Linked DNA regions of Homo sapiens. The protein of the gene in region 6 purifies or fractionates together with the protein of the main gene of each other region. This does not show direct contact. Each region holds a gene or a part of one and is shown on either strand. Other genes may lie near its edges. The genes, in order: SON, ATP6AP2, CYBRD1, CLCN5, TMEM63B, SLC14A1 and MAP7D3.

Region 1 (4,097 bases), on a different chromosome or scaffold from region 6:
CCCACAATTCCAAGGACAATGCTTCCTGAAATTGTACAATACTTAACATCAAAGTATTTGGTGCAGAGCTAGTTCATTTCCAAATTCATTAAGACAGTTTAACTATTGAAGTTAGCTTCAACTTACTGTTTGATTACAAAGATGAAAATAAATCCCAGTTTTACATTTGTCAGCTTTTATAAATGAGGTTTAAACAAGCTATACAAAAATCATACTGAGCTGGCAAGCCTCTCATGATTCCACTTACATTATTCCAAGGGAAGAAGTTATTTAAAAGACGCCAATTAGCTATCATCTGTGGGAATGATTAAATACTTAGCAACTACATACAAGCTACATAGAAGACACAGTGCTGCCCTGCCCAGGTATCTGAAGGTAAAAGGAAAATACAGTCAATGCTAACAGTTCCAAGATGCCTTAACACAAGGCAACAGGAAGAAGTAACATTATTGTCAGCAGCTGGTCTACTATACTCTAACCCAACTTAACTACTGAGCTTGGAAGAAAAAAGCAAACAGGGTTTATGAAATCTAGACTAAACCAGTATTGTAATAGGAAATAATGAAGATGTGCTAAAATATCTAACAAAAAATAAACTAAACTCTAGAAAAAAGGATGGTTCCTTGTCAAGAGAAAATAAAATGGAAATCCTGTTTTCTAAACATGAAATCCAGTTGAATTTGGAGGTGTAATAATAAAATTAGATATATACACATTTCCATATTTAGCAACTAGCATAACAAAAGGTGCCTTTTAAAAGTTCAAACTGGTGTCTCTATCCATAGTTATATAAAAATAAGCTGCTCTGTGAACCCCAAAAGGGGTTAATGTTTTTTCTGACAAATACCTGTATATATACAAGAAGTGCCTTCAGTTCAGTATCACTGGGTTCAAAAGGATATATTAAAGGTAATGTTAAAGGAGACGTTAATAAACATTCCAAAAAAGAACTTGTTACCTTTTCGGTCTGTCTTAAAATCAACTAGGATGGGTTCCTTATTGCCTTCTTTGTTTTTTCCTAATCCTTCTCCTTCTCTCCAGCCCATTTTTCTCATCAAAACGGCTCCCATTCCTCCAGTTACCGGGGCTGCTCTTAAGAACTGATCCTATCCAAAGAAAGAAAGGTAAAATGTCCCCATTTTACAGTTAGAACTTGGTGACAGATTCATTGTTTACTTTCTAAAAAGAGGAATCTTACTTTACTTCTAGATCTGTTATAGCAATTAAATGTAAATTCCTCTATACTTTATACATACTGTAGTGTGTATGTTCTGATTATTTGCACATTAACGTAATAGTATTTTGGAAGTCAAATAAGACAAGTAAATGGCAGTTTTGAAACAGTAGCCCTCGTGCCCCCCTCAAAAAAAAAAAATTAGAACACTCCTGTTTTCGTCCACTATTTAGGTTCACTGGTATCTCTTCTTAGCTTGCAAAATAAAAAGAAGGCAATGTTAAAACAATCAATGATATTAATTGTCCCAGGTGTACCTAGTTTATGAATAAAGCCCAGAAATCACTTAGAAATAGTTTAGACACTGAAGAAGCATACTGTTGTCATCCAAAGTTTTCTTCCCCATTCTACTATAAAGCAAGTATAAATATTTTACTTAGAAAATCCCTAAAGCAGAAAAAAAAAAAAAAACTCTTGAAATTTACACAGTAACAAATAGAAAACAATCACATAAAATATCCTGTAAGTATGCCAAAATGAATTTGAATTCTTTTAAAACCTAGCTTGATGTTAAAAGACTTTTAAAAAACTCCTTAAATGTTTACATACCTAGGCCTCGGTAGCAGCAGTGTTGTGAATAGTACGGCTGGCACTGACCGGGGCAAGAAGACAGCTACAAGGATTTGGCCCTGAAACAAGTTTCCATACAGAGGGGTGAAAGTTCACAGGTTATTCTGTGAACAGTCATCTCTCTTGTATCCAACCCACTGAACCATAATTTCCATCAAAGCAGCAAACCACTTAATGTCCTAAGATGCACAAGTATATATACATTAGCATGGTCAACAGTTATTTTTACAGGTTAAGAAATATTCAATGCCTCTTATTAAAGGGCATCCATGTACATATAGCAAACAGTATTAAGTTGTACTGTTGATCTTTATGGTCATTTTTTAAAAATTTGAAACATATCTCCAAATCATGCTTTATTTTCCCCTTGTTACTAAATTTTAGGTTTTTATGTTCTCTTACCAAATATATATATATATATATATATAAATATATAATATAGCAAAAGTCATTAACTTATCAACAGAGAGAGTAAAAAAACTTCAGTAGCTCAGGAAATAGTATGCACATCTCCTATATTGATAAGTTAATACTGAATGTAAAAAAGAAATGTTTGTATGCAGTAGTAAAACTGTATCTATCATCTTTTGTTTCCCAGCTTTGTAATTAAATGCTGGGGAGAAAACATGCCAATGACGTGTGACTAGACATTAAGTTCATCAAGGTGCTCTGATGGAAGGAGGCAGCTGTGGAGGTAAAAACATACCCCTGGTTCAGTTCCTTATTTGGTGCAGGCCATGCAGTGTAGATGTATAAAGAGAAAGCTGATGCTTGGATATTAACTGCCTTGATGCTACACACCTAGAATGTCTTTTACTTACTTCCAGGTTCATCCGTCCCTCTTTTCCAGGGAACACGCCTAAAAAAAAGGGCAACTGTGCAGAGTACAATATAAATCCCCAAATAACCCAGGTTTCCAATTTTGTTTCCATTCCCTAGTATCATCATCTGTTTCTTTACCCCAGTGTGAAAAAGCTGATTAATTTAATGAGACCACAATAACAAACTGTATTTATCAGGTCACATCCAAATCATTCCATTCTAGAAATAAAATTTCTTTTAAACGAACTACTTTAAATGTTTTACTGATTAATGAGACTACTGATAAAACTTTGCTTTTTTTGTAATCTAAAAATACACTGCAACAAACTAAAAAGAACACGGAGGATGTTGGTATTCCATGTGTTTTTTAACACATAAGGCAGATGCTGGACTATACTAAAGAAGAGCCAAAATGATCGTTTGACAGGTTTTCTAAACACAACTAAACATTTAATGAGTAGACAATATTTGTGATATTTAACATGGATCATACATCCTAAATTTTCAGCTGCCTAATGACTTCTACATGTTGTGGCCCATTTTTAATTTTCAAAAGTTTCTTTTTTAGTTGATACTAGCATCAAATATTCTTCAGTAATTCTATACAAATGAATCTTTTCCTTTAAGTGCTACTTTTATCTATAATTTAAAATTTGGTCTGAACATATCTTTATCTCATAATTTATCAAAATAATTTGCTTCCCAAAGTATATCTTACATAAAATATAAAGTTGAAGCCTTTTTTCAAGGTGCTACTAAACATTTTAAAGTTATTAAAGTCTGTTAACTGCCTACAAGACTGCAAATACCAGAAGAAATTATTTTAGGGGAAAACCAATTGAGTCAGTAAAAGATTCACTTTTTAAAAGTTATTTAAGTTATTAACACATTTATAAGTATACAAACATTATGGATCAGCACATCATTAGATAAAGACCAAAATTTTGTAATGGAAGCACATTCAGAAGTTTCTACCTAGCAGTGTACATGACTCTGTATTATGTGCCTATTTTAACACCCATAAGCTTTATTTCTAACTTCCTGAAATACTGGCTGAGTACTTAGCTTCAAGACTAAATAGTATTAAAGAATTAAAACTAAAGAAATAGATGTACATTTATAGTTCTTCCAAAGATGAAAGACATTTTTTCAAATATTATATAAATCACTTTCATAGTAACTATAATATAGAAGTCCAAGATTAATCCAATCTTTAAAATATTTTGCTATATACATTTTCACCCTTTATTCTAACACCAACCCTCAGCAAACTGCAGAAATTGTAATTTCTTAATGAATCTAACTGTGTACTCACTATACACATCAGTGCAACTACTTCCCAAAAAAAGGCAGGCATAATGAGTATACATGATGTTTCATATTAATTTGTTAGTAAGATCAACAAAGATAAAGCTATCAAAATTGAAATAAATGTTACAAGATTAAAATACACAAAGCAACCAATGTCTCA
Region 2 (4,097 bases), on a different chromosome or scaffold from region 6:
ATTGGCCCAGTTTGCTCACTTCCCTTGAATAGTTTCCACATCAGAGAATAAAGGATGATGGCCCTGGTCATCCACAGCAAATAAAAAGGGGAGGCCACCACGAAAGTGGCATGCCACATGGTTAAGAGGGCGCATGAGCAGATGGAGAAACTGAAGGACAGGAGTCAAAAGTAGAGGTGGCTCCCTCCACTGCAATGTCCAGAATGAATGAGAAAAATGTGGCAACAAATCAGCAGAGGCAGTGAACAATGGCTTCCAAGTTACCAGATCCACACAGCTCCACCAGTCACCAAGTAGATCTATGACCTCTGGCTTGTTTGAATTAATAGGTGGCAACCCTCGTGCTAAAATGTGATGTTATTTACCACAGCTCAACTCACAAAAAGGATCAGTTTATTCATGAGAGTCATAAGAAAATTACACTAAAGAAGAATCTACCCCAGCAGTAAATGTGCACAATCTTTCATTTTCTAAAATAGCAAAATTTCCAAAATTTCAAGTAGTATAAGGAATGGGAGGCCAGATGCAGTGGCTCAAGCCTGTGATCCCAGCACTTTGGGAGGCCAAGACAGGATTGCTTGAGGCCAGGAGTTCAAGACCAGCCTGGACAACAGAGTGAGACCCTGTCTCTATTTTTTAAAAAGACGGAAATTAATGATATTCATGTATTCATTGAATAACTGCACTTACTTCATTGTTCCTACTCAGAGAATTGAGGGGGAGTGAACTGAGAACAGAGTTTTCTTGAAACAGGCGATTACGGAGCTGGCGCAAGGTGACTGAAAGGTCTTCAAACACTGAGTTTGCCTTCCCTACCATATACACTCTCTGTAAGAAGAATAGAAAATTTTAAGTTGCTCAAATTCTACAGATTAGTTCCAATACCCAGAGGTATGACAACATTGTTCATAAATTAGTTTTATATTTTCATAATAAAATTACATTTCATAATTTTCAAATAATAAAAGCTTATTTTTTAAAATGTCTTGAATAAAACCCTTATCACTTACTTCCTCACTGGGAGCCAACTGCAAAACAACAGGAGTTTCCTCAGAAAATAAGGAGTGAATGGAATTTGCAACACTGTCAAGACTAAAAGGAACTGCCTGAAATTTAAGAGTAAGAACGCAATTATTATGTGAACCAAAGTGGGAAGAAAAATCATTCAGATGGTATTTAAAAAGAAGCCTTAAACTTTTTTCCAGCACTTTCTATGGAAATTTAGAAGCCCGAAATCATTTCCAAACAAGCCCTTTTGAGGGCACAGAAGATTAAACAGCCCCCTGGTAAGCCAAGTCTGTATCTCCCATCATGCCTCAGTGGAAAATAACTTAAACCTGATGGACACAACACTATATCTAGCACAAACCATTTTCTGGTGGTCATTCATGTATTTGAAGCAGCAATACATTTGGTTTCAATATTGACTAAATGTGCCACGATGAATGCATATTCCACAATAAAGTATTTAATTTGCATTTAAGAGGTTAGAGGAATCTGAGTATTGAATTTAATTGAAATAAAAATGGAATTCATCTTTCATTTCAAAATTTTAAAAATGTTTAATGAGATTTAACATTTGTCTTCAGATAGCCTAAAGACTCTTAGATAAGGTGTTAAGTATGTCACAAGGTTTTTGAAGCCTTTATCTTAGGACATGTTGATATTATTAGATTGAAATAACCAATGGTGATAAGACCTACTTTTTTCCTTCAATTTTTTTATTAAAGTGCAAAATACATATAATATAGTATACAAATCTTGGGGTAACAGCTCAACAAATGTTTACACATGCATGCACTCAGGTAGCCCAGCCAGATCGACACAGAACACTATCAGCGCCCTCGAAGTACTACCTCCACCCTCAAGGGTAACAAAAATTCTGACTTCTATCCCCATAGATTTGTTTTGCAGTACATGATTTAAAAAAATAAATTACAGTTATTTTTCCCCTAAAAAAATTATTTCATTCCCAGTATTACTGTATTAAAACAAGCAGTACAGTCATGTTTTTGTTTTAATGGAGATTTCTTACATTGATCTTTCATTCAGTAGTTCCCTTACTACTTAAAGATTCATGTTTACAAGTAGCAAAGTAACGCTAATATGATACAGGCAGAAATCAATGTGATTATGTCTTACTGATAAAATCCCAGCATCACATTTTTTTTTTTTTGAGACAGAGCCTCACTCTGTTGCCCAGGCTGGAGTACAGTGGCGCGATCTCGGCTCAGTGCAGCCTCCACCTCCCAGGTACAAGTGATTCTCCTGCCTCAGCCTCCTGAATAGCTGGGATTACAGGCACGCACCACCACGCCTGGCTAATTTTTGTATTTTTAGTAGAGACGGGGTTTCATCAAGTTGGCCATGCTAGTCTCAAACTCCTGGCCTGATGTGATCTGCCTGCCTTGGCCTCTCAAAGTGCTGGGATTACAGGCGTGAGCCACCATGCCCAGGCCCAGCATCAATATTAAGTGATCAATTTTATGATTCTGTGAAATGAAATAATTTTTTTCTCTTACTCAAGATGCTTATTAACTCTTCCCCAAATTCTCTCAAAATGAGTTAATGAGTAAGTGAAGAGGGGGAAGAGAGTTCAAAGTTGCAAAAGCATACTGCTAGCAGCCGCCCTGAATCATCTATAGGTGCTTTCCTTTAGCGATCATAGAGTTTACCTCCTCAGGCTGTGAGGGGAATACATGAGCAAATGATGCAAACTTTCCAGCCTCACTTCACTTAGTGAAATGGCGCTCGGTTCAGGAAAGTTGAAGATTAGGAACCATGTCCATAGCGATCAAATTGAAGCAGCTCATGAATCAAATGAACACCAATGAAGGAAAAGAAATAATTATATAGGCAGCTAAGCTCAAAAAGTAAAAAGCTTGGCTGCTTAATATCGAATGATGGTTTTTCTCTCACTGTATTGTAAGGGAGATGCATATCTGTCCTCAAATTTCTGTACCTGTATGACTTGAAATTCTAACTAAAACAGCTAGCTAATCAAATGGAAGCTTCGTTAAATGGAATTCTAAGATACTCTGATTTTTATGTTTTGTGGGGTTTGCCCCTGAATCTTTTATCTCATTTACCATCTTCTGCTAGGAAAAGCATTGAGCAGCCAACCAGGGCCAAGCAATAAAATGAGCTCCTCACACAGCACAGCTTCTTCTCATGTAAAATGAGGCTAGTCTGTTTTTAAATCTTTATTTTTGGATTACATGCTAATAAAAATCTCAAAATGGCATTTTGGATTTTTATAATTTTAAAGAAAATCTTCTGCAATGATTTTCACAGAAATCACATAAAAAATGACTTAAATGCTCCCTGTGAAATAATCTGCCTTTTGATCTGTATTGTTCCCTTCCTTCTACTTTATGTGTATTTACTCTGAAGTTCTTCCGCTTTCTTTAGCTCATTAATTTCCATTCTTAGACAACCTAAATTGTCTAAAACATGCATTTAAGGCTATAAATTTCCCTTTTCTTACCACGTTAGCTGCACCTCCCAATTTTGTAAATAAATGCTACATTCATTGTTACTCAGTTCCAAATAATTTAAAAAGTTCCACAGTGATTTCCTCCTCAACCCATGAATTATTTAGGAGTGCATCTATTCCAACTATCTTTTCTTGTTGACTTTTTTTGCTTTTAACATCTCTAAATAAGACACTTAAATTACATCTCCTGATTTTTCAATTTTAGGTCTTGTCTATTTACTATCCATTATAGAAAATGAGGCTTTAGCTCTCTCACATCACCAACCACTGCCCCATCCATGCGCTGAGCCATCCATGCGCTCTGCTTCTGTTTCTATCTCCCCACTCTTACCCAATAGTTATATCAAAATTTTCACTTGATCAGCATCATTTCATTATTATGACAATGCAAATAATACTCAGCCTAGCTCATACTACACAATCACTACATTTTCCTTGCTTTCCTTCTACTCTCATTCCTTTGTAATGACAGTGTCTTTTCTCCCTCACAGCTTTTAAGATTTTCCATTTCCTTGATGACTCTTCAATTTCACCGTATGTAGGTGTGGATCTGGCTTTTGCCTACTGGGTGTTCCATATGCTTTAAATCTGAGGAGTTGTT
Region 3 (4,097 bases), on a different chromosome or scaffold from region 6:
AGGATTTTAAGACCAGCCTGGCCAACATGTCAAAACCCCATCTCTACTAAAAATACAAAAACTAGCCAGGCATGGTGGCACATGCCTGTAGTCCCAGCTACTCTGGAGGCTGAAGCAAGAGAATTGCTTGAACCCGGATGGCGGAGGTTGCAGTGAGCTGACATTGTGCACTTCAGCCTGGGTGACAGAGCAAAGCTCTGTCTCAAGAACAAAAACAACAACAACAAAAAAATAAAAAATAAAAAGATGCCTGGGCCACATTCTGACCTGCTAAATCCAATTTCTGGATTAGGGCCCAGGAATCTGTATTTTTAACAAACTGCCCAGACGATTCTTACGTATGTTGAAGTTTGAAAATGACTGCTGTTGATTCACTCAAATTATTCTAGAGATATGGATAAACAGTCTGGAAAACCCTCAAAAGAGAAGGTAGTGGAATATTCCATTATATATAGTCTACAAACACACTAAATGCCAACTATATGCAAACAAAGTGCCCCAGTGTTTAGGAATCATCACCTACAGGAAGCTGTTCTTCAACACAGTGGAAGTTCTTAAGAGCTAAGGAAAAATAAACTTTCATAAAAAGTTATTACTTAGAGATGAAAGTGAAAATACAGTATGACCCAATTATGTTTAAAAATTAAATATCTATATCTACATTTGCATAGGCATAATAAAAGCCTAAAGGGAATAAGCCAAAAGCTAATGATATCTCTAGATTATGGCAGTATCAGTGGGTTTTTTCATTTTTTGTTTTTTTATTTAATTTGTAGCAGCAGCAGAGGTTCTACTCCTTGTGGAACAGGAATACCCCACAGGCAGTGTGCCCAGAATAGCCAGGGTTTTTTCTTTATATCTTTCTACATCTTATAAACTTTAACATTAATGTGTATTACTTTTATAATTAGAAATAGACAATAAAAGTTTACTTTTAAAGTTTCCATGTTGGCTGGGCACAGTGGCTCATGTCTGCCATTCCAGCACTTTGGGAGGCCGAGGTGGGTGGATCACTTGAGGCCAGGAATTTGAGACCAGCCTGGACATCATGGTGAAGCACCTTCTCTACTAAAAATACAAAAATTAGCCAGGTATGGTGGCATGGGCCTGTAATCCTAGCTACTTGGGAGGCTGAAGCATGAAAGTCACTTGAACCCAGGAGGCAGAGGTTGCAATGAGCCAAGATTGCACCACAGTACTCCAGCCTGGGCGACAGGGTGAGACGCTGTCTCAGTAAATAAATAAATAAATAGAATAGAATAGAATAAAGTTTCCATCTTAAATGCCTGGGCATTTCTCAGTTAATTATTACTATTCTTAAAGATATAAATGTATACTACTATGGCAGTTTCTCACTTTATGAAACAGATGAGTTTTTTTGTTTTTATTTTTACAGAGATAGGGCCTTGCTATGCTGCCCAGGTTGGTCTTCAACTCCTGGCCTCAACTGATCTTCCCACCTTGGCCTCCCAAATTGTTGGGATTACAGGCGTGAGCCACCATGCCATGTCTGGCCTGAGGTTGGTTTTTTTTCTTTTCTTTTGTTTTCTTTTTTTTTTTTTTAGTGTGTGTAAGCTTTTAGACATAACAAAAGCTCTTATTGCAAAAGACATTAATGAGACCAGAAAATATCTACCTGGCTAGCTTTTGTAGTAGGTATGGTTTGCTTTTTTTTTTTTTTTTTTTTTAGGGTACAGGTAGATTTAATGAGCTTTCAAGTAAACTGTAGATTATTATATGGAAGCTCCTCCCAGCTCTCCTTCATCTTTGTACTATTTTATAAACTCATTCAGTCCTTCATTCCACATACGTTTTGCCCCTCTTATGACCCAGATGTTCGGAGTGTTGGGAATGCTACACAAGACAGACAAGCTCCCAATGTTAAAGAACTCACATTTATTTTCATTAATATTACTGTTAATGTCCAACTTTTTGACCATTCATAGGCTTTTCTCTTAGATTAATTATTCAGAAATATTAGCACTAATCTGAATCACCTTATGTGCTTGTTAAAGCACAGATTGTTGGGCCCCAGCCCGAGTCTTTGGTTCAGTGGATCTAGGGTGGAAGCTGAGAATCTGTCTTTCTAATTTCCCTAGTGATGCTAATGCTGCTGTTCTAGGGACCAAACGCTGTCTTAGGTCATTGCCAAATTGCATTCCTCCAGTGTAATGACACTTTTCTTCCAGGGGTTAAAAAAAAATTAAAAATAAATAAATAAATAAATCTAACCAGCACCAACTACAATATGCCCATAGTTTTTTTATAAGGGACGTAACAGACACTCAAACTGGTCATTAAGTCTCCTGCCAATATTCTACATCTCCTTGCTACACTGTCTTTTCATCACATCAACTTGGCAATACCCCAACCCTGGCTCAGCCATCTTCATGACTACCCCTGGTCTGCTAGGTAATACTGGAGTAAACCACAACCACAGAGACTAGCATCACTCCAAGTTCATGATTATGAGCAGTTCAACAACCCTGCTCAGCAAACCTCTATTGTCTTATTTATCAATGAGCTCTCCATTCTCCCCCATCCTCAAATGTCTGACTCTCCGATGTGCCTCCTTACTCTTGGGGGATGATTTTACTATCACCTCATGGGAAAAACAGAAGCAACTTCAGAGAAGAGCCTCAATTTCCTGCCACCAAACAAAACAAAGCAAGAAATCACCCCAAGCCAACAATTCTTTTCTTCAATTACATTGGAGATTATGTCCTCCAATTTTTCAGCTGTGCTCTGTGACCTGCTTCCCAAGGACCTAGCTATACATCACTGTGTCTCTCCAGTGTTCACAGTGTCTCTTTCTTTACTGGTGCCATCCTGTTAGCCTTTCCATAAGCCCAAACTTCTCACAATAAAAAGCAGAAGTAGACAAAAAAAAAAAAAAAAGAGCACCCAAATGCCTCCTTGGACTCTTGCCCCTGTCCAATTGTCACCCTCTCTGTCTCCTCCCCTCTCACCCAAACCTCTTGACTGAGTTACCACTCTGTTTCCTCACCTTCTGCTCCCTCTTCAATCCATTGCAGTCTGGCTCCTAGGAAGGAAGCCAGGAAATTGCTTTCTGGGGTCATTAGTGACTTCCAGGTTACTAAGCCTAATGATCAGTTTTCAGACTTTATTTTGCTTATCTCCTCAGTAGCATCTAACACTCCTCCAGCCCTCTCCTCCCCTCCAATGTTTCCCTTCTCATCTACCCACTTATTCAAACTTGTGGCTACCCACCTGCTCAATAAAGCCTGTGAGTGACTCTCTCTCATTCTTTACATCACGCATTAATTCTACCTGCTAAATATCTTTAGAATCTATCCACTTTGCTACATTGCTACTGCTACTCCTCTAGGCCACCATTGTTTCTCATCTTAACTCCATAAACACCTGCAAGCTAGTCTCCCTATAATTATACCTGTCCAGCCTCCAATTCATCTTCTATGCCCTGCTCTGGACAGCCTGGTCTCCTCCCTACTCCTCAAATACCACAAACTCTTCCCCACATGCTATTCCATCCACCTAGAAGACTCTCCGCCCTTTCTACACCAGGTGTGTGGCTTCAGGTCTTGGTGTGAGGTGTGACTTCCTTTATCCCCTATATGAGAGCTCTCACATACTATATGAGAGGCCTCCCAGAACACTTCCTATCTACCAAATACTCAATTGCCTATCTTCCCTGCAAGCTTTACAAGGGCAGAGAGCATGTCTCTTTGAGCCCACATTTGTCTTGTGGAACAGGTATCACCCACAGCCCAGCCTAGCAAGGTATCTGGCATATAACGGGTATTCGGTTCACTGCTGAATATATGAATAGATTTGGGAATAAAATTGCAATGACAAAAAATGCATGTTCTTAACCATGAAGGTACCTATGATCAATAGTAGAAGTGGAAAATGTCATCTGCAGGTCATAAAGGGGCATACCACAGGATTTACACTTATAATAACAACAGCTAGTTTGTGTTATACCAGTGTGCTAAGCCCTGGGCTGGACCTTTAGATGCATTATTTGGCTTTGATTCTTATGATTTTGTGAAGGATTATAATCCTTGATTTATAGCTGTGCAAAAGAAATTCAGAGAAGTAACTTGGTCCACGGT
Region 4 (4,097 bases), on a different chromosome or scaffold from region 6:
AGAAATCATTAGGTTCCTGTTTTGTGAAAAATCCTTTTAAGTGAAATGACCTTAGTCTTGACCCATTCCATATGTGACTTCTTTGTAATTCAAAGAAAATAAAGCAAGAGCCATTATTCTCTTAGGCCCTTAATTATAGCAAGAAAAAAGTAAACCAATGACTTGGAACTTTTTTTTAAAAAAGTCCTTCCTCCTCAAAACAGCATACATTAACAACTGCATAAACATGACAGCCACTACAGAGGTGCCATGGCGGGACTAATTTAGCTGGGCTGAAACAAAAGGTAGAGAGAGGTCCAATACAGAGAGAAACTAATTCAAGTATAGTGTTAGATAGAAATAGAAAGTGAAAAAACCGACATCTGAAACATACACTGCACTTATATGTACTATTCCATAGCAATAAACAACTTCTTTTAAAATCTATTCTTTCTGTAACTTATTTTGTAAGAGAAGCAATATATACTTGAATAGAATTACATACAATAAAAAGTTAAAATCCTTACTTCTCCTTCACTACCCCTCACTCTCCCACTCACCATAGATAAACATTTTTAACAGTTTGACGTGAGCCAGGCATCGTGTCTCATGCCTGTAATCCCAGCACTTTGGGAGACTGAGGGAGGAGGATTGCTTGAGCGCAGGAGTTCGAGACTAGCCTGGGCAACATAGTGAAACCCCGTCTCTACAAAAAATACAAAAATTAGCTGGGTTTGGTGGTGCGTGCCTGTAGTTTCAGCTACTTGGGAGGCTGAGGTGGGAGGATCATCTGAGCCAGGGAGGTCGAGGCTGCAGTGAGCCGTGATCATGCCACTGCACTGCAGTCTAGGTGACAGAGTGAGACCCTGTCTCAAAAAAAAAAAAAAGTAAAACCAGTTTGGGGTAAAACCACCTTCCAGACATTTTCTATCAATAAGTGCATGTACACTTTTAAAAAATATGAATTATATTATATACATTACTCAGAAACTGGCTTTTAAAATCAAATGGTGTTTCATAGCCAGAATTCCAAGTCAATATATAAAAGGTTATCTCATTTAATGGTTGCAAAGTATTCTACAGTATGAACAGAATAGTATTTATTAGATCAGTTCCCTATTGATGGACATTTTTGTTGCTTCAGTTTTTTACTATGTTGACAGACGCTGCACTATCCTTATACACCTTTGTGCACACACATGCTAGGATATCTGTAGGATAAATTCCTACAAGTGGAATTGCTGGGTCAAAGGGTGTTTGCATTAACATTGGTAGAACTCTCAAATTCTCACCCCCTAAGATTGTATCATTTATGCTCACAACCAAAAAGAGACTATTAAGGCCATTCATTATTACCTCTCTGCGCTTGGCTTCATTCTTCCTGTATTTGTTGAAGCAGTGGCACAGGATGTTCCCACAGCAGCAAGCCACGTGCACTAGAGGGCCCTCTTTGCCCAGGCTCAAGCCAGATGACACTGCCAGCACCAAGGTGATGGTTTTGATAACCAGAGTCCACTTACCCAAATAGCCCCTAATAATGAAACCACTCAAGATAGTTTTTATCTGCAGGTTAAACACAGAAAGATTGAATATAGACTAAGGAAGTCAACAAGGCTAAGAAGCAAAAATCTGGACCTCATTATAGAAACTGCACCTTTTGAATAAGTGACATATAAATGCTTGACCTACAGTGATCCCTGTTTGGAAGAGAGCCCAGGAGCCCAAGAAAGCAAGAACTGTTCTTTAAGCTTTCATGTTCCCCCTTTTTAGGGGGAGGGGAGTGATAGCTGGGCAAGGATGTATTGTAAGTATGAGAGTGTGCATATATGAAGGAGGAGCTGGAGAGGGAGGGATAGGTGTTTTCCTCATGTTACAACGTGGTAGCCCAAGAGGCATGTTTTGAGAGGACAAGGCTAATGTCCCTGAAACAACCTTAAAGGTTAGGTATAGTCTTGATTCCCTGGCTTAAAAAAAAAAAAAATTGTGACTTATTACCTGGTCAGGAAACAGGGAAGGGCAAAGTCATCCTGGTAACCTAAGTCTCAGTGTCTTTAGTCACTGTCAAGCAATCTAAGCCAAAAGTAGTTAGAAACAGGGTTTTAACCATCCCATGTAGCCTAAATCATATTGTGGGAAAGGTACCAAATGATTTTCTTTCTTTTGCCCTGAAAAAGCTGACAATAACACTGCTTTTTCAGGTCAGAATCTTGGGATATACTCTGGAAGCTTTTTGGATAGGGAACAGGGGAAGTTTTCCAGAGCCTGGCTCAACAGGAACCCTCAGGAGGCTAAGAATCAACTCCCTTTAATTTCCTGGTAGCCCAGGCTGAGAGGGACTTGTGGAAAGACCTAGGTCTTAGATGGCCTCAGGATCTGATCCTGTTTAACATTCATCAAATTGTGGTATGTGCTGGAATACATATTAAGAGATTTTAACCAAAAAGTATTCATATTGTAACCATTTATAAACCATTTTAAGAGACTCACCTCAGGGATTCCAGAGCCACAGGCATAAGGCGCAAACACCTTGACAAGAGATACGGCAAGGAAGGCAAATAGGAGAGCCCAGAGGACGTACATGAAATAATTGACTATGTAGGCAAAGGCTCCCTGGAACAGGGGGAAAAAGAAGCTTGTTTTAGCCTAGACAGCTTCAGTGAGACATGCAGCTCTTCTGAGTAATGTTTTTTCAGGAAAAAAAGTCCAAAAAAAAAAAAAACCACCGAGATTAAATTGTTCAAGACTTTTCTTTCTGAATTGTCAACTACTGAAACACTGTCAGGCCACTTAGTACTGAAAATGAGATGCTTTGCTACACCCAAAGGAAATTTACCATGGATTCTAAGGATGAACAAGGAAAAGAGCAAACGGAAAACCATGAAACAAAATTCTCTTTCTATATGAGTGCTTTGATGGGTTTTGTAGTCAAATATATATGATTCCATGTCATTTTACCAAGAGTCTTAAGAGCACCCCCCCAGCTTTTTTGGAATGGCTGAACCTTGGCTTCACATCTGAAGTGAAGAGCGGATCTAAAGTTCCACTAAATTCACCTTTGGCTACTTACCTTGGTGTCAAATTCTCATAGTTTATAGTAACAAAATTTTGGGTGTTTGGCTTTTTTCTTTGCTTTTTAAAATTTTTTTATTGTATGTATTTAAGGTGTACAACATGATGTTTTATATATATACATATAGCGAAATTGTTACTACATTGAAATAAACTTACATGCATATCACCTTCCATAGTTACCTTTCTTTGTATGTGTGGTAAGAGCATCTAAAATATACTCTTAGCAAATTTTTAGTATACAGCATTATTAACTCTACTGTACATTACCTCTCTAGACTTATTCACCCTACCTCACTGCAAATTTGTACCCTTTGGTCCACTTCTCCCCATTTCCTCCTCCTCCATGCCCCAGGTAACCACCATTCTGCTCTCTGGTTCTGTTTACTCAACTTTCTTTTTTAGAGTCCACATATAACTACATCTTCAAGAAAATTTTGGTACCACAGACTCAGGAACAACCATATAAGTAGAAAGTTTTGGACCCTGGTGGTACCAGATATAAATAAATAAAATGGAAACAACTATTTTTTAAAATAGAAAGAATATACTTTTTGAGACTATTCCCCTGTGATAAATGAAGCATGCCACAAAAGAAATCTAGCTTTGACCAGCAGGAAAGATTCATCCATATTAAAGGGCCTGCAAATAGTCATGTCTTACAAAAAAAGCAATTTTGATTAGGAAGTTATGCTTGCTGGTAGAAATATTAGGAATTGCAACTCACTCAGTAAATACAAAACCCAATGGACTTTTGACTTCATAACACAAAACACTATTAAAGTAACTCACTGACCTAGACAAAGAGAACCAGAATGCTCAGGTTTTTTCTGAGTTGTAAATTTGACACAGGTTTTCCATTATCTTAGGCCCTCAGAGGAACACATGATTGCTATTTCTTTGCCTTTCCAATGTAGCTAAGGAGGAAGAAGACTGCAGAGGTAGGAAATGAAGAGGGTAAGGGAGTGAAAGGAAAAGTAACTCAAACTGGCCAGAGGCAGAGACCAGGAGGGCAATTTCCTGGCATTTGGAGAAGGCTTCTTAAAACC
Region 5 (4,097 bases), on a different chromosome or scaffold from region 6:
GGGTATAAGGATGTTCTTAGAGTTCAAAGGCAGAGAAGGCTCTGCAGCAGGGCTTGAGGGTAGGGGGAAGCGTGGCTTACTCACTCAAAATGCTTCTTGATCTTTTCTGACTCTGCATATTTGGAGATTCCATTGATGAAGAGGGTCCGCTTCACCTGGGTGACAGGGGAGTGGGTTTGCCTTCTGAGGCTTGACCCCAGTGGAGCCAGGGGATGTGAGGGGTGGGGGGCACTAGAGAAAGAGGCTTTGTTTTGAGTGGGTAGAGAAGTAGGTGAGCAGAGGGGAACAGATGGGGTGGGAGGAGGCCTTAGTTATGGATAAGCCAGGTCCCAGGGAAAGCAGGGGAGTGTTTCCAACAGAAATCAGGCAGTGAGCCTAACAAAAGAGCCACGCCGTCCCATGCTCTTGAGGGGTTATAGAGGCAGAAGGGGGTACTACTTTCAGCTCCTTAGACCCTGAGAACCCAGCACAGTGGCTGGCATGGAGTAGGTGTCCGGTTCTGGCTTGGTGAGTGCATGTAGAAGGGGAAGGAATATTACTATCCTAGGATCAGCCACTGCTATTTTCCCAAGTGCTGGGCACAGCACGGCTGTTTCTGTGTATTCCCCACAACCTTGGGGGAGGTACTGTTGTTATTCCATTTTACAGATGAGAAAATCATGGCTTGGGAGGTTATGTAACTTGCAGGATGGGAGCTCCTGAGCTGCTGTGCCAGCATTCAAACCTAGCTGACACCTCTTGGGGCTGAGACAAAAGAGGCCTGCAGGGAAGGGAAGGGAAGAGGCTGGGGATGGGGCAGGACCTGGGCTCTGCTCCACGCACCAGATCATCCTCCTTGTAGCGCATCTTGGAGGTGTGTCTACGCATGCTGTAGACGGTGAGCAGCAGATACAGGAAGGCGAAGGAGGTGTGCAGCCATAGCAGGTTGTTCCTGGGAGAAGCAGAGAGGATACATGGGAGCCACTGGGGCTAGGACACACTCAGAGGAGACACCTCAGCCTGTCAGTGTTAAACCCTTGATACAGACAGGGCCCTCTACTGCCACCAGCCTTCTGGCACTGACTCCTCGCAAGGCAGGCCCACATCCCACATCCCCTAGACACCAAAATTCTTCGATTCCAATGAAAATATCCCTGATAGGTCACCTTTCTACGCCCTACCCACTGGTTACAGTGTCTCCAACTGCCCCAGCTGGCCCTCCCTGGTTCCTGAGATTTCACCCTCCTCTTCTGTATCCTCTTCATCCTTGGGGGATCCTCAGCAGGCATTTCCCTCTTCTGTCTCCAACCCAAGCCCTCAGGGACCCATAGCCATCCCTGTAGGCTCTGCTCCCATCAACGCAGCTGCCTTTCCTCCCTGTCCCACATCATGGCCCAGACTCTGGTCGTAGACCTTGGCCTGGCCGACCAGCTTCGCATCTTACCCTGATTTCAAGTTGGCAATGGTGGTTCTCCCAAAGCTGTAGGCATTGTTCTCTGTGGGGTGGGAAGAGGGAGAGGATGATGGTGGGGTCAGGGCACATCCCCTCCAGCCCCATCCTCTCTCCACCCTAGCCGTCCTGGCCCTCACTGACCCAGCAGGTCCCCTGAGAAGTTGACAGGCAGCACGATGCCTACGGAGAGGACGCCCACAACCACCAGCAGCCCGATGATGTGCCGCTGAAAGGACAGGTAGTGCACGGCATCGCCCCCACATTTGTCCCGGATCTCATCATCCCTGCAGCCATACGGGTTGGACAAAGGAATTAGGTTAGGACCAGGGCAAGAAGGGGGCTGCAACTTGCCTGCCCTCACCCACTCCCACCCCAAACCCACCCTAGCTCCAGCTGATCTGGCAGTAGTATAGGGCTGAAATGGGACTTCTTGGTCCCCTATTTTCTGTGAAGGGAGAGGGGAGAAAGGGAGAAGAGAGGGGGAGGGAGAAAAAGGAGAAATGCATGGAGAAGGGGAGGGATGAAGGCAGAGGGCTAGAAGGAAAAGATAGGTAAAAGAAAGAAGAGACTGCAGAGACAGGAAGGGGAAGAAGAAAAATGAGGAATGCAGAGAAAAGGGAAGAAAAAAGAGAAATATCTGAGGAGGGAGGAAGGCAAGAGAGGAGGAGGACCAGCAGGAGGAGGAGTGGTGAAAGAGGCAGAAGTGAAGGAAGGATGGGAGGAGGGGCAGCAGCACCTCATGGGTGTGGCTGAGCCTGGCGTAGTGAAGCCCGGGTACCCTTGGGGGAGGCCTGGGGGAGTGGTGGCGGCAGTGCTGACCTGTCCTGGCTTCCTGCCTTTCTCAGCGCTCACTGCCTGCCTGCTGGACTCTGGCTGGATCTCCTGAGTTCTGCCTGCAGCTGGCTGGCTGCTCCCAGCCTACTGCTGCCCCCACTCACTGGCTGCACAGAGGTTGAGGCAGGGGCTCCACCCCCTCCCTCAAGGTGGGGCAGGGCAGGGAGAGAAGCGGGGGGGCCGGCAGGGGGTCACAGAGGAGATTATGGGGTCAAGTGAGTGTTCAGGGTACAGCAGAGGCTCAGGCACCCGAGGCTTGGCCTTTGAGAGCAGGGAGGAGGGTGCTGTGCTGGCGAGGAGTGCTAAGGCCCTGAAAGCTGCTGGCTTCTGAATTTTGTAGGGAGATGCCAGGTTCTGAAGTTTCTCTCTTTCTTTAGAGCTTGAAGATGGTCCACTTACTTTATCCTGAAGATGGCTGTCAGCCAGGAACAGAAACCCTGGGGGAACAGAGGGCTGTCAGCGGGAGTCCCCAGCCCACCAACCCGAACCTCTCTCCTCCCTCAAGTCCCACCCATTCTCATAATTACCTCCAGGCATAGCTTCCACACCCCTCACTAAAAAAAAATCCTTATACCCTCAGAACTAGCTTATACCCAAAAAGGGAGAGAGAGAGGGAAGGTCTCAGCCCTCAAAGAAAAAAGACCAACACTAAACAGGTTTATCTGTGAATCCCCATGTCCAGATCTACAGATTTCTGCAAATACCCTGTGGCTGTGTGGGCCAGGGTGGGATGGGTGGGGCTTGGGGTTCTAAGGTTAGCAGGACCTCCAGACCTCCGGCTAATAAGTTTGCAACATGGCTGCCAAAAGCAGAGAAGAGGGCCTTGCTGCCTGAATTCCAGCTATTTATCCTCTAGTCTACCCCAGAAGGACAAAAGCCCAGGGTCACTATGAGCTGCAAGGTATCTCCCCACCTCCGGCCAGGTGCGGTGGCTCACGCCTGTAATCCCAGCACTTTTGGAGGCCAAGGCGGGCGGATCAACTGAGGTCAGGAGTTCGAGATCAGCCTGGCCAACATGGTGACACCCCGTCTCTTACTAAAAATACAAAAATTAGCTGGGTGTGGTGGTGCGCGCCTGTAATCCCAGTTACTTGGGAGGCTGAGACTGGAAAATTGCTTGAACCCAGGAGGCGGAGGTTGCAGTGAGCTGAGATCACACCACTGCACCCTAGCCTGGGCGACAGAGCAAGACTCTGTCTCAGGGAAAAATTAAAAAAAAAAAAAAATCTCTCCCCTCCACCCTCCAGGCATGTAAAGGCAGAGAATGGGGATATTCAGGGGAGGGCTGCGCAGAGGGCACCCTGCCCCAAACTCCATCCAGCAGAAGGTCCAGACATAACACAGGATGGGGTAGAAAGGTGCCTTTCGGCCGTGATTCAGGACCATGCTACCTGTTGCCAACATCACCTGAGTCTGGGGACCATCTGGACACTTCTGGCTAGCAGATGTGACAACTTTGCCACCTACCAGTATGAGTCCAACTCAGGAAGCTGAAGGCCATCTTCTGCTGGAATTGCTGGAAGAGCTGCCACCCCTAGGACTTGCAGCCCAAGAGGGACTGACCAGGGCCACACCATGTCTGAGGATTAGAGTTCTGACTAGGCTCCTTACCCTCATGGAATTAATGATGGAGAGCCAGGCAGGTAACACCTGTGTGTTAGGTCTGATATGAAAGGGGTCTGGAGTCTGTTATGAATTGCCATTCATATGCCTTGTTAAAAGGGACCACTGCCACTCAGCTCCAATCCACAAGCAGGTCAACCGGCCCCACATGGCCAGGGGCCACCCACCTGCAACCTCCGAGCAACATGACAGATTCTGTTTTTCTAGG
Region 6 (4,097 bases):
TCAAGCACCTGAGATGTGGCTAGAGAGGTTGAGGAACTCAATTTTTAACTAATCTACATCTAAATTTATATAGCCACATGGGGCTAGAGGCTCCTGTGTTAGTGCAGTTCTAGATCGATTAATGCTATTTTATACTGTTATTTTTCATGGGTAGTTCTAATGAATCTTTGATTTTTTCCTTCTGAATTATTTCCAGGTGCTCCCTTTAGTTTTCTGGCAAGAAGCTAGGGAGAAGGTGACTTGAGCTCCTCGTGTGTTTTGATCACTCAACAAAGAAGACAAAAGGGCGTTTCATAACCTGACAGTGGGAGAGCACATTAAAAAGGTAAGGTTTCTTTGGTTTTCTTCTAATTTCAGGTGTTCTCTTGTTCTTGATAATCCAGAAACCTTAAACATATTTATTACACACCAACAGGAAGAGCTGGAATTTGATTTGGGTTAACCAGGTTTTAAAAAATACAGAATCTCTTTATAGCCATCTTTAAAGAGATACATAGGATTCACCCCTTGATACAGTGGTTCTCAAACTCTGGCCCGCATCACAATTTGGGGAGTTTGTTAAAACAGGTTCCAGGCCCCACCCTTAGAGATTGTGATTTAGAGGGTCTGAGATGAAGCCTGTTTGGGTATTTAAAGCTCCCCAGGTGATTCTGATGCCTACCAAAGCTTGGGAACCCTAAATTATTGTAGATGTTCTATGAGCTATGCCATAAGGAAAAGCAGAATAGAGAGGTTCTGTCAGAAGCTCTAAGAGTAAGCATCCAGTTTTTTGATTGGAGGGAGTAGACTATGGAAGATTTAAAACCAGGCTGGAGGCCACATGCCTTAAGGGCTGGCTCCCATCACCCCCACCCCCAAGCTTACGATAGAGTGACTCCCAGTGGAACTGTACTCTGGGGTTAGCACTGTAGATGTTTAGGGGAAAAGGCAGAAAAATCAGCTTGACTAAATAGTAATTTTAAAAAATCCCTTAGACCCTAATGCTCTGGAGTAGAACAAATGCTTTAAATGGCAAGATGAAGGCAGAAAGGCCACCATAGTCCTGAGCATCTAGGAGACTCTGACACCCGTGGACAGTTGACCAGGAGGCCATTGCGTATCTTGCAGAGCCAGGGCGAATGTGAGAAGCCAGTGTCTCTTACCTCCAGGGCACTGAGGTCAGACCAGGAGATATTTGGAGCTGTAGTTATAGGTATGACCAGTTTGGCTGGAAAGAATGGATTGTAATGTCCTGTGGCTGAAAGGTACATTGACAACGCCATGTTGAAAGGGAGGGTGAAGACGGGGAGGTCCCATTTGCTGAGCATGGAATTCAATGCACTTGAGAAAATTGGGCTAAAAAAAGAACAGAGCAAAAGAATGTGCATGTGACAAAGCAGGCTGACACACGGAATCGCTATACTCTGGAGGGGCTTTGTTTCACCTGCCAACAGGCCCCTTACGTGTTGTGTTGGCACATTTGCCACAGAAAGAAAACTTGGGATAAATCCTATTATAGAGGCAGTAAATATTACATAAAGTAAAAAATCAACTCTCAGCTTATTTGGCTTTTGAAAAATTCTACTCTGGGGTTGCTCAGAGTGAGCTATATATTGAGATTTTAAAAATATTTTTGAAGTACTTATGACATACAAAATAAAATATTATCTACATAGTTAAAGTCCCCTTTGTCCCTCCACTTGCTCTTATGTCCCTCCCTCCCCACTAGAGGCAACCCTGATTCTGATTTGGCAGATATTATTTCTTTAATATACCTATTTTTGGAAAAGAGAAACAATCGTTCAAGGATGCAGGTAGTGTGAGCTGGAGGAAAATGATATCACAGTTGGTGGGGCAGAGTGTGTGTCCTTGAGCTGTTGATAAATTGCATGACCTAGGCAAGGCGCATCTCCTTAGCCTCAGAGCCCATAAACTGTGGGGCTGGGCTGCATGGTCCCGAGGTCCCTCATAGGCTCTCACTTGTTGGCCCAATCAAAGAGCCATCACTTAAAGACCAGAACTCCCATTTTCCTGGATTGTGGAAGGGAGCGTGGTGAGCACTTACAGGCTAGGCCTCCTTCCCACGAACCTATTCTTCAGAGCAGGGCCCAAATTACTTCCTGAAGAGTTTAGCTCTACAGGTAGGTCCTCGTCCACACACCCGTGGGTACAGTAAGGGTGGGCATCCCTTCTGCAGACACTGCCCACAGCAGGCTGTGCTTATTTATGTGCATATTAGTATTTTATATTTAACTACAATATAGAAAGAAGGAAATCTTTGTTTCCAGAAAAAGGATGTAAGACATTGTCAACATAAAAACTAGTTTGAAGGATTTGGGTTTGAAAAAAAAGGAATTCAGCAAAAAAATTTTTTCTAAGGGAGACCTGGGGGGCAGGTGGGTAAGGGGGAATTCACGTAGGCACAGTGGTTCTCCCAGCATCATGTGGGAATGCGTTAGAAACGCAAATTCTCGGGCCCCACCCCAGATAGACTGCATCAGAAACCCTGGGGCCGGGGAGCAGATGCCTGTGGTGTAACAAACCCTGCAGGTGATTCTCATATTGCTCAAGTTTGAGAGGCAATGATGGAGGAAGTGGGTCTCAACTTTGGCTATACTTTAGAGTCATCTGGGAAGCTTTAGAAACTCCCAAAGCCCAGGCGCTACCGCAGACCAATGACAGTAGAGTCTTGGGAGGGAGGAGTCAAGTGTATGTGGGGGCCACGTGCATCAGTGTGTTTCTACCAAAAAGACACCTGCACTCGTATCTTCATTGCAGCACTGTTTCCCTTCCCCATGGAAGTGTCAATGTGCAGCCACCTCTGGTTGAGAGGTATTAGTGGATGTGTAGCCAGATCAGACAAAAGGCCAAATAACTGGTTGTAAGGAAATATACATCTTTTAAAATGGTTGTTTCTGTTTCCAATAGACAGAATCTACTGGAATCCAATTTTAAATTTACCATTTTAACTGTTTGTCCTCCTCCTGCTCCTCTTCCTCCTTCTCCTTGCCCTCCTGCTCCTCCTGCTACTCCTCCTCCTTTCCATCCTTCTCCTCCTCCTCCTCCTCCTCACTTAGCCCAAGCAAGGAGGTTCGGAGAACTGGAGTGCGGTGACGCAATCATAGCTCACTGCAGCCCCTAACTCCTGGGCTCAAGTGATCCTTCCCCCTCAGCCTTCTGAATAGTTTGGACTACAAACAAGAACCACCGCACCCGGCTAACCATTTTTAAGTGTGCAGCTCAATGACATTAAGGACAATCACATTGTTGTACAACCATCACCACTATACATTCAGAGAACATATTTCATCTTGCAAAACTGAAACTCTGCCATATAACAACTCCCATTCCCTCCTTCTGCCATGTTTTTTTTTTCAAAAAGGCATTTTGAAAACCAATTGTAACTTACCAAGTCATGGACATAGCACATACAGGGAGTAACAGCCACCAGAAATAGTCTCCCTTGTCCGAAAAGACAGCCATGAGTACTCCCACCAGGGTGGCATTGTAGCCATAGAGCCCAGATGCTATTAATGACCTGTGGGGCAAGAGACACAGCACGGACATTTCCTGGGTGAGCTTTGGTTGCACTTGCACATAAATAACACTAGTAACTTCCAGATCATATTCATATTAAAAAATGAGATTATATTTGGAAATGTATTTCAAAGTCTACGTAAGCATCGTACAAAAACTAATAAAGACATGAAGTGAAATATACATAGATAAAAATATAAATGTGCATTTAGATCAGTGGTCCCCAGCCTTTTTGGCCCCAGGGACAGGTTTCATGGAAGACAATTTTCCATGGATGGGGAATGGGGGATGATTTCGGGATGAAACTGTTCCACCTCAGATTATCAGGCATTAGATTCTCATAAGGAGCAAGCAACCTAGATCCCTCACATGCCCAGTTCATAATGGGGTTCGCACTCTTATGAGAAGCTAATGCTTCTGCTGATCTGACAGGAGGCGGAGCTCAGGTGGAAATGCTCACTCGCCCACCGCTCACCTCCTGCTGTGCGGCCCAGTTCCCAACAGGCCACAGACAGGTACCTGTCTCCAGTGCAGGGGTTGGGGACCCCTGATAGAGAATGACTCCCTCTACAGGTGTCACG
Region 7 (4,097 bases), on a different chromosome or scaffold from region 6:
CCTGAGAAAACAATATTCTAGACTCAGGCAACACAGTTTATCCTCTCATGCACAGGCTGCAAAATTATGTACCTTTTGTGCTTCATCCTTCTGGTGTCTTTTTTCTTCTGCAGCTATTCTCCGTTGTTCTTCTTTCTCTTTTCGCTCCTTCAGCTTTCTCTGTCTTTCCTCCATCTGTTTTTCATATTGGAGCTTGGTCTTTCTTTCTTTTTCAAGTAGTTGTGTTTCTTTATTGGCTGAAATATTCCAAATACATTTTCAAGGTGTAAGAGCCAAGAAAATATTTAGGTTTTCCACATTACACACACAGAAGGAAAAAGTTAACACATCTCATTCACTTTCTTAAAATAACACAACCTGTGCTAGTAACTAAAGATTTATTATAAAAGTGAACAGAGGTAGCCACTGCAGAACCATTTTCACTGAGTATTCATTTAACTCTGGAGAACTGGATTGTCTGTGCCAAATGACTCTCATCCTGTCCAAACTACAATTCCAAATTAAGAAAAAATATTTTCTTTCATGTGATATTTCTGCTGATTTGAGCTAAAGTCAAACCCTACCATATTAATATGCTGTACATTAAAATACTAATTATTAAAAACTGCATGGCCAGGATACATGTTTTGTTCCCTTCTACTAGGAAACTTCTTTCAAAGTCCTCATCTATACAGACCATATTAAACATGCCAGTTTTACATTAATGGACTTAACCATATACCATATTACAGGAGAGCAAAATTTTTCCTATATTCAAATTTTCCCTCACTAAATGCTTCTGAAGTGTGACTCTGTATAAATTAGGATCTAAAAGGATAATCTTTTTACAACTTGGTAACATGCTTTTCATCTTATCTATGTTAGGATTATTGGCAATTTATTTTCATTTTTAGAATAACTTTTACTGGCCAGGCGCGGTGGCTCACGCCTGTAATCCCAGCACTTTGGAAGGCCGAGGTGGGTGGATCACGAGGTCAGGAGATCAAGACCACCCGGGCTAACACGATGAAACCCCGTCTCTACCAAAAATACAAAAAATTAGCCGGGTGTGGTGGCGGGTGACTGTAGTCCCAGTTACTCGGGAGGCTGAGGCAGGAGAATGGCATGAACCCGGGAGGCGGAGGCTGCAGTGAGCTGAGATCGCGCCACTGAACTCCAGCTTGGGTGACAGAGTAAGACTCCGCCTCAAAACAAAACAAAAAAAAAAGAATCACTTTTACTGAAATCCCATTCTGATTGTTTTTACAAATATTGAAGAAATTTCCAGACCTTAGTTTTCAGAAAATCAAAGCTAAGATAAACTACTCCTTCAAAAATTAAACAATTTAATCAAAGAATTTTCATGGGCCTTCTTGCCTGATTTAGTAAAAGGATTTAATCCAAAATAATACATAATATAAAAATTATACTCTATCATATAAACAAATTAGGAGGAATAAGTTAAAAACACTTTGCAATATATAACACAATTCATTTTGATTTTTGAAAAAAGGTCTAAAATATACCGTCTTGCTGTCTCCTTTTCTCCTCTCTGCGCTCTCTTGCTAATCTTTGTTTTATGTCATTTTTAAGCATGGATCCATCGATTACTAAAAAAAAAAGAATATAGTTAGATATTAATAGGATATCAAATTTTAAAGATATGACACTTTGACATCTATCAAAGCATCAGAGAAATTATACCTGGTTTAAATGTCGATCTTATATTTGAGGAATGGGTTGCAACACGATTAACCACATCTTGCTTCCTCCTTTCCTTAGCAATCTCGTTTGCTGCAGCAACTAAAATACAGGGAGATAAAAGGATTAGATGTTAAGAATACGGATAGCTAACACAGGAGTCAGCAAACCACGGCCAATTGTATTTGATGATAAAGGATAGGATCACTTCTATAAATCATGACTGATTTCATCTGGGTCAACAACAAAGATATATTGAACACCTATGATCTTCAACAACACTTTAACAAAGAATTTAAAGTGTTTACTATGATGGGCCAGGGTATTTGTAGACATAAAGATAATTGAGTTGTTAGTGGCGGTGGCAGCATAAGTTTGTGGATGAGTAGGAGCCAATGATTAATAGGTTTTAAAAATGTCTCAAACAAAACATTACACCAAGTGTTAGAAATACTGAGCTGGCGAGGAATTGGGAAAATTAAGTTTCACCATAAATTGGGAATTCAGAAGATAACAGGTTAAGAATTTATGGATCTGAATTGGGAAGCAAAGTGTTAACAGTGAAATACTCAGTGAAAGATCAGGCCCAACCAATGTTAAGGAGTACATTTATAAATTACCTAAATTAGGGGCTTTCTATCCTGGTTGCACACTGGAATCACCTAACTCACTTTTAGAAAATCAGCAATGCCTGCCTGCCCGCTCCCCATCACCAGTCTCTGGCTGTGGGGCCCAGGCATCTACAATTGTTGAGCTCTATTCTGATGCATATTGAAGGTGGAGAAATAAATATTCTTTTAGAAGAAGTAATCTCCAATGAGATGGTATCATTCTAGGTAGATGTCAAGCAAACAAATATAAATTATACAAGGTGCAAACAAACGTGTAAACAGGCAGAAAAGTGATAAACTTCAATAAGGGTGAAGTGTAAGATTAGGAAAGCACAGTATGAGGAAAAGTAAGAAAACTAAAATTCCAGGATGACACACATGAGTTATTATAGGGGAATCCCTGAACCCTTTAATTCCACACATGGCTATATCTAAAATGTCCCACAATACTGAGCATCTTCAGAAAGAGTATTGAAAATAACACTGAAAACTAACTCTGTTCTTCTTTTGTAGAAAAGCACAGGAAGTAAGCCCCTGTGATGCTGCATACAAGTCTGGTTTCTATGTATTGAGAAAAATGTAACAGTTGAAGATGGGCAGTTAAAGTAACTGAGGGAATAGAGGGGCTGTCCTTGGACTTATAAAATGAATGAACTCTGAGGTGTTAATTGCTACTGAGGGAGTTATTTTACAGCATAATCTTGAAAATGACATCACAATTGCTGCCGTAAGGATCACCATTTTTTTTTTTTTTTTTTACCCCAGAGGCCGAACAGCCCAGATAATATATGACCTAGCTTAATTTGAGGATTAGACTCTTCTCAGCTTCCTTAATAATTTAAGTACTGGCAATTCCATGGACCACAATTATTTTCTGAATTTGAGCACTAGTATATTAACAAAAATTCTTGGTCTATAGACACTCCTATATACCCACTTGCAACATTTTTATGTGAGTGCAGAGAAAACAATAAAGTACTTGTAGTATTGTTTTTACACATTCAGTTCTCCTGCTTAGAAGTCCCAAGGATAGTCCGTATTTGACACTATTTAGCTGATAATTTCCCTCAAAATCTACATTTTTGGCCCAGAGTGGTGGCTCATGCCTGTAATCCCAGCACTTTGGGAGGCCAAGGCAAGTGGATCACTTGAGGTCAGGAGTTTGGAACCAGCCTGGCCAACATGGCAAACTCCCATCTCTAAAAATACAAAAATTAGCTGGGTGTGGTGGTGCATGCCTGTAGTCTCAGCTACTCAGGAGGCTGAGCCCAAGAGTTTGAGGCTGCAGTGAGCCTTTAGCATCCCACTGCACTCCAGCCTGGGCAACCCTGTCTCAAAAAAAGTATACTTTTACCAGGCTAATTAAAAATCTTATTAAACAGAAATAACCTTAGAAGTAGCTGTGGTGAGAATAATGAACCGAATCATATAAAGGTTAATGTGGTAGTAGTATCAAATCTGATTTTTAGACCTTTGTATCCAAATTCCTACTGGTAAGAAATACATTAACAGAAAGGACAGGGTTTAAAAATTATTTAAAATGTCCAGAAAATGGGATAACACCTTTATGTCTGGATATAATAAAGTCAACATTTTATTCAACTTCATTGAATGAAAGAATTTACTTAACATGCATTTAAATGAATGAGGGAATTTACTTAATATTCAGTTAAAAGTAACAGCAAGGTATTTCTGTAGTCCTTATACTAATTCTAAATCCAAAATTAAAGTAAAAGTTATATTTTGCCCAGAGATTAAATAAGAAAATGTGTAGTGTATTACTAAAACTGAATTATGAATCTTAAT

Evidence for each region.
Region 1: the proteins of SLC14A1 (region 6) and SON purify together in Homo sapiens (affinity purification with mass spectrometry; one large-scale study listed by BioGRID and IntAct). This does not show direct contact.
Region 2: the proteins of SLC14A1 (region 6) and ATP6AP2 purify together in Homo sapiens (affinity purification with mass spectrometry; one large-scale study listed by BioGRID and IntAct). This does not show direct contact.
Region 3: the proteins of SLC14A1 (region 6) and CYBRD1 purify together in Homo sapiens (affinity purification with mass spectrometry; one large-scale study listed by BioGRID and IntAct). This does not show direct contact.
Region 4: the proteins of SLC14A1 (region 6) and CLCN5 purify together in Homo sapiens (affinity purification with mass spectrometry; one large-scale study listed by BioGRID and IntAct). This does not show direct contact.
Region 5: the proteins of SLC14A1 (region 6) and TMEM63B purify together in Homo sapiens (affinity purification with mass spectrometry; one large-scale study listed by BioGRID and IntAct). This does not show direct contact.
Region 7: the proteins of SLC14A1 (region 6) and MAP7D3 purify together in Homo sapiens (affinity purification with mass spectrometry; one large-scale study listed by BioGRID and IntAct). This does not show direct contact.

The regions. Positions count from the first base shown.
Region 1 is NC_000021.9:33,570,317-33,574,413, reverse strand, and holds part of SON (protein SON), read right to left. Parts: intron 1,864-4,097; exon of another isoform or gene 1,784-1,863; intron 1,107-1,783; coding exon 959-1,106; intron 1-958. UniProt on the Homo sapiens protein: RNA-binding protein that acts as a mRNA splicing cofactor by promoting efficient splicing of transcripts that possess weak splice sites.
Region 2 is NC_000023.11:40,594,258-40,598,354, reverse strand, and holds part of ATP6AP2 (renin receptor precursor), read right to left. Parts: intron 1,107-4,097; coding exon 1,011-1,106; intron 829-1,010; coding exon 691-828; intron 1-690. UniProt on the Homo sapiens protein: Multifunctional protein which functions as a renin, prorenin cellular receptor and is involved in the assembly of the lysosomal proton-transporting V-type ATPase (V-ATPase) and the acidification of the endo-lysosomal system.
Region 3 is NC_000002.12:171,546,237-171,550,333, reverse strand, and holds part of CYBRD1 (plasma membrane ascorbate-dependent reductase CYBRD1), read right to left. Parts: intron 1-4,097. UniProt on the Homo sapiens protein: Plasma membrane reductase that uses cytoplasmic ascorbate as an electron donor to reduce extracellular Fe(3+) into Fe(2+).
Region 4 is NC_000023.11:50,079,086-50,083,182, reverse strand, and holds part of CLCN5 (H(+)/Cl(-) exchange transporter 5), read right to left. Parts: intron 2,590-4,097; coding exon 2,467-2,589; intron 1,543-2,466; coding exon 1,336-1,542; intron 1-1,335. UniProt on the Homo sapiens protein: Proton-coupled chloride transporter. Functions as antiport system and exchanges chloride ions against protons. Important for normal acidification of the endosome lumen. May play an important role in renal tubular function.
Region 5 is NC_000006.12:44,137,086-44,141,182, reverse strand, and holds part of TMEM63B (mechanosensitive cation channel TMEM63B), read right to left. Parts: intron 2,704-4,097; coding exon 2,666-2,703; intron 1,717-2,665; coding exon 1,574-1,716; intron 1,476-1,573; coding exon 1,424-1,475; intron 932-1,423; coding exon 823-931; intron 156-822; coding exon 85-155; intron 1-84. UniProt on the Homo sapiens protein: Mechanosensitive cation channel with low conductance and high activation threshold. Osmosensitive cation channel preferentially activated by hypotonic stress.
Region 6 is NC_000018.10:45,733,694-45,737,790, reverse strand, and holds part of SLC14A1 (urea transporter 1), read right to left. Parts: intron 3,518-4,097; coding exon 3,389-3,517; intron 1,336-3,388; coding exon 1,143-1,335; intron 326-1,142; exon of another isoform or gene 197-325; intron 1-196. UniProt on the Homo sapiens protein: Mediates the transport of urea driven by a concentration gradient across the cell membrane of erythrocytes.
Region 7 is NC_000023.11:136,244,560-136,248,656, forward strand, and holds part of MAP7D3 (MAP7 domain-containing protein 3), read right to left. Parts: intron 1,783-4,097; coding exon 1,684-1,782; intron 1,590-1,683; coding exon 1,506-1,589; intron 237-1,505; coding exon 73-236; intron 1-72. UniProt on the Homo sapiens protein: Promotes the assembly and stability of microtubules.